Homo sapiens: one gene and its partners. The protein of the gene in region 1 interacts with the protein of each later gene in a pairwise test. Each region holds a gene or a part of one and is shown in the gene's direction. Other genes may lie near its edges.

Region 1 (3,755 bases):
GTGCTGATTGGTGTGTTTACAAACCTTGAGCTAGATACAGAGTGCTGATTGGTATATTTACAATCCCTGAGCTAGGCATAAAGGTTCTCCACTTCCCCCCGAGACTCAGGAGCCCAGCTGGCTTCACCCAGCATATCCCACACCGGGGCTGCAGGTGGAGCTGCCTGCCAGTCCCGCGCCGTGCACCCGCACTCCTCAGCCCTTGGGTGGTCGATGGGACTGGGCGCCATGGAGCAGGGGGTGGCGCTCGCTGGGGAGGCTTGGGCTGCACAGGAGCCCATGGAGGGGGTGGGAGGCTCAGGCATGGCGGGCTGCAGGTCCCGAGCCCTGCCCCGCGGGAAGGCAGCTAAGGCCCGGTGAGAAATCGAGTGCAGCGCCGGTGGGCTGGCACTGCTGGGGGACCCAGTACACCCTCTGCAGCCACTGGCCCGGGTGCTAAGCCCCTCATCACCCGGGGCCGGCAGGGGCGGCCGGCTGCTCCGAGTGAGGGTCCCGCCAATCCCACGCCAACCCGGAACTCCAGCTGGCCCGCAAGCACCCTGCGCAGTCCCGGTTACCCCTCGCGCCTCTTCCTCTACACCTCCCTGCAAGCTGAGGGAGCTGGCTCTGGCCTTGGCCAGCCCAGAAAGGGGCTCCCATAGTGCAGCGGTGGGCTGAAGGGCTCCTCAAGTGCCGCCAAAGTGGCAGCCCAGGCAGAGGAGGCGCCGAGAGTGAGGGAGGGCTGTGAGGACTGCCAGCACGCTGTCACCTCTCAAGATCTCATTACCTTGTCCAGGCTGGTCTTGAATTCCTGAGCTCAAGTGATCCTCCTGTCTTGGCCTCCCAAAGTGTTAGGATTACAGGCATGAGCTGCTGTGCCTGGCCAAAAGTAACTTGATAATTTGCACACAGGTGCCACATAATCCTGGTGGTACAGGTTGTACTGTCCAATACACTAGCCACATTTTACTTAAAGTGATGTGAAATTTAAAGTTCAGTTCCTCAGTCATGCTAGACAATTTACAAGTGCCCAATGGCCACATGTGGCTAGTGGCTACTGTATTGGGCAATGTTTAGGTATCGAAAATTTTCACCATCACAGAAGGTTCTATTGCACAGCACTGGACAGACCCTGCTTCTAAACTATTCTACGCAATTTGCTAGGTGAACGATCTTTAATGCAAATCTAAACATGGTCTTCTTTTGCTCAAAAGCCTTCAATGATTTTCTCTTCCATCAGCAGCAATCAGTTAATAGAGTTTTTTTCTTTTAAAAATGGTTGTAATGGAAAGTTAAATCAATTTTGAATCAATTTTGTGTGTTAAGACCAGCATTAAAAACAAGTAGCAAAAGAGAGAAGGGAAAGTACTTATGGATCATTAGTACAGTTTTGTGAAATTTTTGTTTTGGTCATATCTATATTTCTTTGCCTCTATAACTAGATTTCCACCTCTTCATAACTTGATGTCTGTATGATATTCCACTGGGTTGCAATGAAAAAAATCTTTCTAGTTGTGTGTGGTGAGCAAAAAATTTGGGCTTATGGGATAAGAAGTCTGAGCTCCGTAATGAAGCATTATAAGGCCCTCTATGATCTGATCCCTTGCTAATTCATTTCTAAGTCTCACCACTGTCTTGCACTTAGGTTCCATTAATACAGAATTGCTGCTGGTTTCACCTGAGACACGAAGCTTTATTTTTCTTTTCTTTTTTCCATCTCTGTTGCGTTTCCTCATTCTGAACTGTTTCCTTGGACTGCCAGTTCTACCTTCTTTTTGCCTGGAGAACTTATCATCATCTAAGGCCAACTTAGGAAACACCTACAGCAGGAATCCTGCCTAAATGCTCCAGGGCGGGCTGGCTGTCCTTCTTTGACCTTTCAGAGCATCCCACACACATCCGTTTACGGGGTTATAATAACGTAATTATTTATTTAGGTGTTCATTTCCGGCACTATACTAAGTTCTTTCAGTGCAGGTACTATCTTATTCATCTTTGTATCTGAAGCGAGAAGCGCGGTACCTGTAACAAACTAGGCATTCATTCAATAAATATTTGTTGAAAGAATAAACGCAAGAAGGAAGGAAAAATCAATCAACAACTGTGCGGACAATGTCAGTGCAACGCAGACTCCGGCCATCAGAGGGCGCCGGGGCGGCTGGGCTGGTGCGCAGGCGCGCTGAGAGGGCTGGCGCCGCGGCGGTAGCGGTGGCGGTCGCGGCTGTGGCCGGGGGAAGTGAATGGTTTTACCCAGAGGGCCCTGCGCCGCCTTTCTCCGCTGGCAACGGCGCCGCTCCCCGCTCCTCCTCCCCAGCCATGGCGTTCACGTTCGCGGCCTTCTGCTACATGCTGGCGCTGCTGCTCACTGCCGCGCTCATCTTCTTCGCCATTTGGCACGTGAGTAGCTGGGGCTGGGGAAAGGAGGGCGAGGCGGCAACACAGCCTCTTTTCGCCCCGGGCCCGCGGTCCGGGCCGCCACGGCCGCCGGGGCTTTGCGCGTCGGGGATGCGGCCCGGCTGGCACGGGCCGCGCGGCGAGGGGTCTGGGGGCCGCGGGTACTGGAGGAGCCGGGGCGCGCAGTCGCCAGGTGGACGCGCCCGCGTTGCCTCGGCACAGGCCGCGCGCACCGCTACTCCTCCCCTACTGGATGGGGCGGCCGCGGTCCAGGCGGGCGCCCGCGGTTCCGCGCTGCGTTCGCACCGACCTCTGCCGGCCCGCGGCCCTGCATTCCCGGGGAGGATGTCGACAGCGCGGTGGGACGGCCGTAGTGTGAATGAAGTTTTCCGAATTTTTGTTAATACAGATTGACTTTCTTTTAGGGTTTCCACAGAACTGTGGCCAAAATGTAACCTACTTAGGGTGAATTTCCAACTCTACTTTTCAGCACTTGTTCGGTGCTCTTCAAATCAAATCACTTTTTTTCTCTTTTTCCAGATTGTTGTTTCCTGGTGAACTTTGATGCAAGTTCAATTGATTACTTTGTTGATTGCATGTGCGCGTTTCCCCCCCAAATCATACTTTGACCGCTGGAGTTTCAACAGGCAGCTTTCCAAGCCACCCTTATATTCAGGATTGCTTGATTTAGTAGAGGGAGTTTTCATTTGATTTTGAGATGCTCAGAAACCTTAAGCTTTTCTGGGGCAGTATTTATTTCTGTTACACACATCATCATCACTATTGCAGGGTGGAAGCACAGCCTTACTGGTCCCTCTAAGGAAAAAGTCGTAAGTTCCCTGTGACATAGTTCTACAGAGATAAGAATTTCTGTTGCTTTAGCACAAAATTAAAAGCCTTGAGAGCCTTCTGGAAATCATTCATTAAAAATTTATCTCATACTTGCTTCTCTTTTCCCCATATTCCAGTGCCTTCTGGAATGTTGCTTTTAATTTGAATGACCGCGTTCACTCTTACGTAGATTTTAAGTCAGGTTTCATCATGCCAGTAACAAGGATTTCTATGAAACATACGGAGGGGCAGAATGATTAAACAGCAGCAGCGTCTTGTGCAAAAAAGTCTCGAAAGTGGAAGCATATCACAAATCCATTCCTTTTTGCTAAGCAGTGTGATTATGTTTACAATTATTTTAGGACCTGACTGCTTATTGTAATCAGGAATACTTATGTAGGCTATTAACTGTGTCGGAAATAACTGCTACCTCAGAATGCTTGTCAGTAGGAGCAGTAATTTGAAGAGCATCTTCAGCCCTGCTTTGATGGAAGAACAATACCTAAGATAATTTGGGATACAGACTAGCTCAACCTTAGTAGGCCTCTGAT
Region 2 (3,755 bases), on another chromosome or scaffold:
GTGATGCTTGATGACACGTTGCAGTTACTGGGCCAGACTGAGAGGGGAAACCTGGGAACAATAATTAGACACACATTTTCTTATACAGTAAAGCCTAGAAAGGACATATTGATTTTCACAGACAAAAAAGATCTAAATAAAGGACTGCCTTCCCAGTGTTCTGTGTGTTTCAAGCACATAACAAATGCTTCAAAGAGCTTTTCAAGCACATTTTGGCATGTTGGAAGGCAGACTTTTCCTGTGCTGCTGTGTATGTTGAATACTGTATCAGATGCACTAATGTGGGATGTACACTATGGTGAGTGCAGGAGTTCCAGGGGTCAGGTGCTTGTCAGCCCACATCCCAAGTAGAAGCAGAAAGTGGAAGGAGCCTTTGCCTTCTTTCAGTGGATAAAAGCTCAGGGTTTGAGAAGCTGCCTTTTGTGCCTCTTTCCTGCTCTGTTCCATGATCTTTCTCTTGCAAATAAGCCTCATGCTGTCTTCAGCATGTATCCTGTATTTAGTATGTATCCTTTAGCGTGTGTGTGCCCTACAATATATGCACCATTCTGTCCCTAGGTGTCAGAAAGGGAGAGGAAGACAGAAGAGCTACCAGGCACAGTTCTGGACCTCTTTCTCATGTGGCTGCTGGTATCCTAGCACCTACCTACACACGTGAAACTGTCAAGCCAGTTAGAATCCCAGGTTATTGTAGTTAAAAGGGATCTTAGGGCTGACCAGCCTCTCTCGCCTTCTGCATGATATCTCTAACATGAAGTTATCCATCCTAGTTTGAACACTTCCATCGATGGAAAGGGAGTGCTTTGTTAACAAGGCAGCTAGTCCATCCCGTAGTTGCTTTTCCTTGCAGGAAGGCACACTTTGGTAAATAAAACTCAGGTTAACTCATGCCTATTTGTGCCACTTGCTCCTCAGAATAATTTTTTTTAAAAAATTATTTCTTAAATAAAATGTGTTTTCAATAGCTTCTTTCCTGGCTGAAAAATCTACAGTACTTAAGCTATTCCATACGTGCAAAAATTTGCCATACTTATCGCTCTGGTTGGCATGTGTGTCTCTTAAGCATGGTACCCAGAATCCAACCCAGCCAGGCCCTGTGTGTTCTAACCCAAAGAGGGGATTGATGGATACTGTCCTTCCCCTACTGCAACCTAGAGTTGATTCATTAGGCTTAAACTAGACATGACATACTTCTGCTTCCAGACCATGATCACCAACCCCTCCAATGTTGTTTTCCTGGGAGTGGTGGATGAAATCAGGATTTTCTCAGTTTTAGGCTCATGTAGCATGACCATGACTTAGGTTTCATCTTAACAATTTTGAGTTTCTAGATCTCTCCCGTTAGGATCTTTTTATTTTTTGCCTTGGCCTTTGTATTTGTTATTGGTACCAGAATTTGCATCGCAGAATCTGCAATGCCTTCAAAATAATGACAACATTAATGTCAGTTTCTTTTGTGCAGCCCTTTATAGTTTATAAAACATTTCATATACATTATTTTCTTTGATTAAGAATAATAACCCAAGGTCAGTCTCTAGGCTTTTTTTTTTTTTTTTTTTTTTTTTTTTTTTTTTTTTTTAGACAGCGTCTGGCTCTGTTGCCCAGGCTGGAGTCCAGTGGTACGATATCACAGCTCTCTGAAGCCTCCACCTCCCAGGCTTAAGTGATCTTTCTGCCTCAGCCTCCTGAGTAGCTGGGACTACAGGCATGCACCACCACACCTGGCTCATTTTTATTTTTATTTTTTTGTAGAGAGGGGGGTCTTGCTATATTGCCCAGGCTGGTGTTGAACTCCTGGCCTCAAGCTGTCCTTCTGCCTCGGCCTCCCAAAGTGTTAGGATTATAGGTGTGAGCCACCAGCCAGACTAATAGCAGGTGCCAATCATGGATTTTAAGTCAGTGAACACACAGTTGAGTGTGCCATGTGTTCTGTACAAGAACCAGGTACAGATGCTCCTCTGCTTCGGATGGTGTTGTGTCTTGTGTCCAGATAAACCCCTCATCAGTTGGAAATATTGAAAGTGGAAAATACATTTAATACACCTAACCTACTGAATATGCTGGCTTAGCCCAGCCTACCTCAGATGTGCTGAGAACACTCACATTAGCCCACAGTTGGGCAGAATCATCTCACACAAAGTCTGTTTTATAATGTGTTGAATATCTCGTGTGACTTACGGAATACTGTACTGAAAGTGAAAAAGAGAATGGTTGTGTACTTCAGATACTCACACAACCATCGTGTTTTTCACTTCTGGTGAATAAAGCAGCCCTTATCGATACAGTTTCTACTGAATGTGTATCGTGTTCACACCATCATCAAGTCAAAAAATCATCAAGTTGAACCGTTTTAAGCCGGGGACCATCTGTGTTCAACTTTCTGATGACTTTCACAAGCTCTGCATTTTATCTCCCAGCTCTGTTGTAAGGTATTGTCAGTGCCTTGCAGAAAAGAATCAAATTCCTTCCAAGTGACATAGACAGCAAGTTTTGGAGAGCTAAGGACAAACAGGGCCGCAGCTCAGCTCAGTTGGCTTGCTTCTCCCACACCAGCATTCCCTGCGCAGCCCAAGTTCTCAGATACTTCTGAGATCTTAGTCAACAAAGTTAAAACAAAACAAAACAAAACAAAAAAACAAAGACTCCATGGACTTGCAAATATTGCGCTTAATGATTTGCACAGGCTGGGTGCAGTGGCTCACGCCTGTAATCCCAGCACTTTGGGAGGCCTAGGTGGATGGATCATTTGAGATTAGGAGTTTGAGACCAGCCTGGCCAACATGGTGAGCCCTCATCTCTACTAAAAATAGAAAAATTAGCTGGGCGTGGTGGCGCACGCCTCTAATCCCAGCTACTAGGGAGGCTGAGGCAGGAGAGTCCCTCAAGCCTGGGAGTGAGAGGTTGCAGTGAGCGAGATCGCGCCACTGCACTCCAGTCCGGGCGACAGAGTGAGACCCTGTCTCAAAAAATAATAATAATTTGCACAGTGTATCCTGCATTGTTCTGACTGAATCTGTTGGTTTCTAATACTCAGCACTTTCTTGAGTAATCTCTAGAACTTTTGCCAATAATCAATGCCAGCTGAACTTGCCCCAATTTTTTCTGTATTTGAAATGTAGGATGTTTGTCCAGCTCCAATCTTCTGGTAGCATTTCCTCTGTTCTCATGAATTTGCAAAGATTTCTGACCTTTATCCTGAAAGTTGCTTAAATATCCTGGGAAGTAATTTGTATCCTTTTTCTAGGGCTAAAGAGTAGAAGTTATTTAAAGTGACTTTAAGTACAATTTAATTAAGACTAGAAATAATTATATCATTGCAACAGTAACACTTTTAAAAATAGCCCACAATTCCATGATCCTAGTTATCATATGATGACTAGTTTTCACTTTTGAAATGCCTTACACACAAACCTGTTTTCACAGTTCTAATCAAAGTGTTTATTTAATGGAATCTACTATTTTCTTGACACCTCATCAAAAGAATTTGTCCATTTCTTCCGAAACATTTTAAATGCATGATATTTTTGCTGATTTATTAAAAGTTCTTAAATTCTTTTCCTAATACCGAACTGACGGCCGGGCACAGTGGCTCACGCCTGTAATGCCAGCACTTTGGGAGGCCGAGGCGGGCGGATCACGAGGTCAGGAGTTCCAGACCAGCCTGGCCAACATAGTGAAACCCCATCTCTACTAAAAATACAAAAATTAGCCGGGCATGGTGGTTTACGTCTGTATTCCCAGCTACTCGGGAGGCT
Region 3 (3,755 bases), on another chromosome or scaffold:
AGGAGGTTGAGACTGCAGTGAGCCATTATTACACCACTGCAAACTAGCCCAGACAACAGAGCAAGATCCTATCTCAAAAAAAATTAAAAGGATTATAAAACAATACAATGAACAATTATACACCAGTAAATTAAATAACCTGGATGAAATGTAAAAATTTCTAAAAACACACATACTACCAAAAGTGACTCAAGGAGAAATAATCTGAAGAGTCATATAAAAAGTAACTACATTGAATCAGTGATCAAATACCTCTCAACAATGAAAGCTCAAGACAAGAAGTTTTCCTTTTGAATTTCACCGAACATTTCAAAAATTAACACCAATTCTTCTCAAACTCTTCTAAAAAATAGAAGATGAAGAAACATTTTGTAATATATTCTATTAGACTGGCATTATCTTAATATCAAAGCCAGCTAAAGACATTACAAGAAAATTATAGATTAGTATTGTTTATTAATATAAATGCAAAAGTCTTCAATAAAATACTAGCAAACTAAATTCAGCACCATATTATATACCCATTACTAAATGGGATTTATCTCAGGGATGCAAGAGGGATTCAACATACAGAAACTAATCAATGTAATGTATCACATTAATAGAATGAAGGTATGCAAACCACATGATTATGTCAATTGATGCAGAAAAAGCATTTGCAAAAGTCCATCACTTTTTTATGATAAAAAAATGTTCAACAAACTAGGAATAAAAGAAAATGTCCTTGACAGGCATTTATAAAAAACAAAAACAAAACCCAGTCAATAGTGAAAGACTGATTTTCCTCTAAGATCAGGGAAAAAAGGCAGAATGCCCAACTTCATTAGTTCTATTTATCATGGTACTGAAAATTCCATGTAGAGAAATTAGGCAAAGAGAGGAAATAAAAGGCAGAGGAAAATTGGAAAAGAATAAATCAAATTATTTCTATTTGCAGAAGACATGATCTTATATATGGAAAATCCCAAAGAGTCAACACAAAACATAGCTCTAATAAATGAATTCAGCAAAGTTGCAGGACATTTGTAGTTCTATACACAGTGATGAACAATCCATGAAAGAATTTAAGAAAACAATTCTATTTACAACAGCTTCCAAAAAAACCTCAATTGATAACAGCATCAGCCACAAAGAAGAATTAAGTATTGATACATGCTACGAAATAGATAAACCTCAAAAACATTAGCTAGGTGAAAGAAGCCAGACCCAAAAAGTCACAAATTGTATGATTCTATTTATATGAAATATCCAAATTAGTTAAATCCATAGACTGGATTAAGAAAATGTGGCACATATACACCATGGAATACTATGCAGCCATAAAAAATGATGAGTTCATGTCCTTTGTAGGGACATGGATGAAATTGGAAATCATCATTCTCAGTAAACTATCGCAAGGACAAAAAACCAAACACTGCATGTTCTCACTCATAGGTGGGAATTGAACAATGAGAACACATGGACACAGGAAGGGGAACATCACACTCTGGGGACTGTTGTGGGGTGGGGGGAGGGGGGAGGGGTAGCATTAGGATATATACCTAATGCTAAATGACGAGTTAATGGGTGCAGCACACCAGCATAGCACATGTATACATATGTAACTAACCTGCACATTGTGCACATGTACCCTAAAACTTAAAGTATAATAATAATTAAAAAAAAAAGATAAAAAGCAAATTAGAGATTGCCAGGAGCTGGTTGATGGGAGAATGGGAAGTAACTGCTTAACGGTATGCAGTTTCCTTTTGGAGTGATGAAATGTTTCTGAACTAGAGACAGATGCTAGTTGCACAATATTGTGAATGTACTAGATGCCATTGGATTGTACACTTTAAAGAGATTAATTTTATGTTGTGTAAATTTTACCTCAATAAAATATATGTCACGCTGAAGGTATCATTATCATGATCACCATCATCATCCCTATAGAAAATAATGCTTCCTAAATTTCACTTTCTTTAAAAGGTTTAGATTATGAGAAAATATAAGCAGACTAAAATTTGAGACTATAGTCAGTACAATTTGGATGACGTGTTCTTGTCTTCTCTCTGTTCTCTTTCAGATTATGTCTGGCCACTACCTAGATATTTGTGCCCCGTCTGGATTTCTTTAGATGTTTTATTTTCAACAGCGTCCATCATGCACCTCTGCGCTATATCGCTGGATCGGTATGTAGCAATACGTAATCCTATTGAGCATAGCCGTTTCAATTCGCGGACTAAGGCCATCATGAAGATTGCTATTGTTTGGGCAATTTCTATAGGTAAATAAAACTTTTTGGCCATAAGAATTGCAGCGGCTATGCTCAATACTTTCGGATTATGTACTGTGAACAACGTACAGACGTCGACTGGTAACATTTGCGTTTGATCGGGTTCTTTTATTTAGTAATTATTCTTAACCTATTTATCTGATATTTAGGTTAACAATAATGAAAGGAATGTAATGTGTATTAATATGTAAATATAAAGTTTCCATTTATGCTGCTAAATTATTTTATGCATTAGTATGCCAATGAATTCTGCAACACAGATACAAAATGTTTGAAATATTTAAAATGCTTTGAAAATGAGAAAGACATAAAGTCTAATTAAAGTCTAAATTTTAAAAATATAACATTTCAATCTTATATTGAAAAGTTACATGTATCCCAGAATATTAACCTTAGTATTTTTATTCTAAATTCCTATCCTTTTCAGTAGAAAAATTAATAATGCAATCTAAATCATCATCAAGTAAATATGTCTAAATTTTTGTTGCTATGACACCTAAAATGTACTATTTTCTCTCAGTTTTAATTGTCTTCTTGAATTCTGGGTATACAAAAAGAAAAAAAAATTTGTTTCTTTAAAGATTTGTAGCAGTTTAAAGGGAAAGAAATGATCATTTATTGCTTATATTTGAGGTATTCATAAATGCCTTAACAGTGCTAATATTAAAGCCAAGAAATTTAAACAATTGGACTTTAGGGGTTTTACTTTCATGTTTTTTTCCTTTTCCAGTTGGTGTAAATAATTTTTCTTCATATTTATGTTTTTGTAAAGATTGAGGTAAAGTGTGCAACAAGATCAAGACTTCTATTTAATCTTCACTAATATCATCTAAATATTTTGACTCTGGGTTTATTGATCAAATACATTTAAGTTTTAAGATTGTTCTATTGTAGATTGTTCTGCCTGTGTATAGCATAGACACCTTTGAATAAAAAGTCGTGAAGCTTGTCCCAAAAGACAAAAATGAATTTACGTAAGTTTGACTTACAAATTCAAGAGTTCACAGATTTTGCCCTAGCCATCACAAAGAGTTCATCTAAAAAGATGCCAGCTTTTATGGTGCTTACAAAGGAAATACACAGACAGAATATTGTTGCATCAGCTTCTAGTAATGAAAGACTGAGTAATTTGCAATGACTCTTGTGCTAAAGGCAAATAAACACATGGATAAAACACTAAAAGCCCTAAGAAGCTAATGAAATAGAAATTGCTATTGGCTAAGATCCAGAAAAAGACAAAAACCCAAGAAAAATGATTATGACTTCTAGTTCACTTTTGCCAATGATGCATTATAAACCTGAAGATATGACTGACAGGTGGAGACGATCATTTCAGACTCGCAAGCAATGGAGGACTAGAGTAGGAATACAGAGTCTGGCAAGGGCCAACCAACCTGAATTTAATTCTGGGATCACAAAAAAACCAGACACTAGGAATAAGGATCGACCAGGATTAAATCACCATAGACATGGAATTCAG

What was found.
Region 2: the proteins of CNIH1 (region 1) and SLC22A23 interact in binary tests that used the Homo sapiens proteins (3 or more experiments, as listed by UniProt).
Region 3: the proteins of CNIH1 (region 1) and HTR2C interact in binary tests that used the Homo sapiens proteins (3 or more experiments, as listed by UniProt).

The regions. Positions count from the first base shown.
Region 1 is NC_000014.9:54,439,868-54,443,622, reverse strand, and holds the start of CNIH1 (protein cornichon homolog 1), read left to right. Parts: upstream 1-2,248; 5' UTR 2,249-2,295; coding exon 2,296-2,376; intron 2,377-3,755. UniProt on the Homo sapiens protein: Involved in the selective transport and maturation of TGF-alpha family proteins.
Region 2 is NC_000006.12:3,450,424-3,454,178, reverse strand, and holds part of SLC22A23 (solute carrier family 22 member 23), read left to right. Parts: intron 1-3,755.
Region 3 is NC_000023.11:114,845,938-114,849,692, forward strand, and holds part of HTR2C (5-hydroxytryptamine receptor 2C isoform a precursor), read left to right. Parts: intron 1-2,065; coding exon 2,066-2,266; intron 2,267-3,755. UniProt on the Homo sapiens protein: G-protein coupled receptor for 5-hydroxytryptamine (serotonin).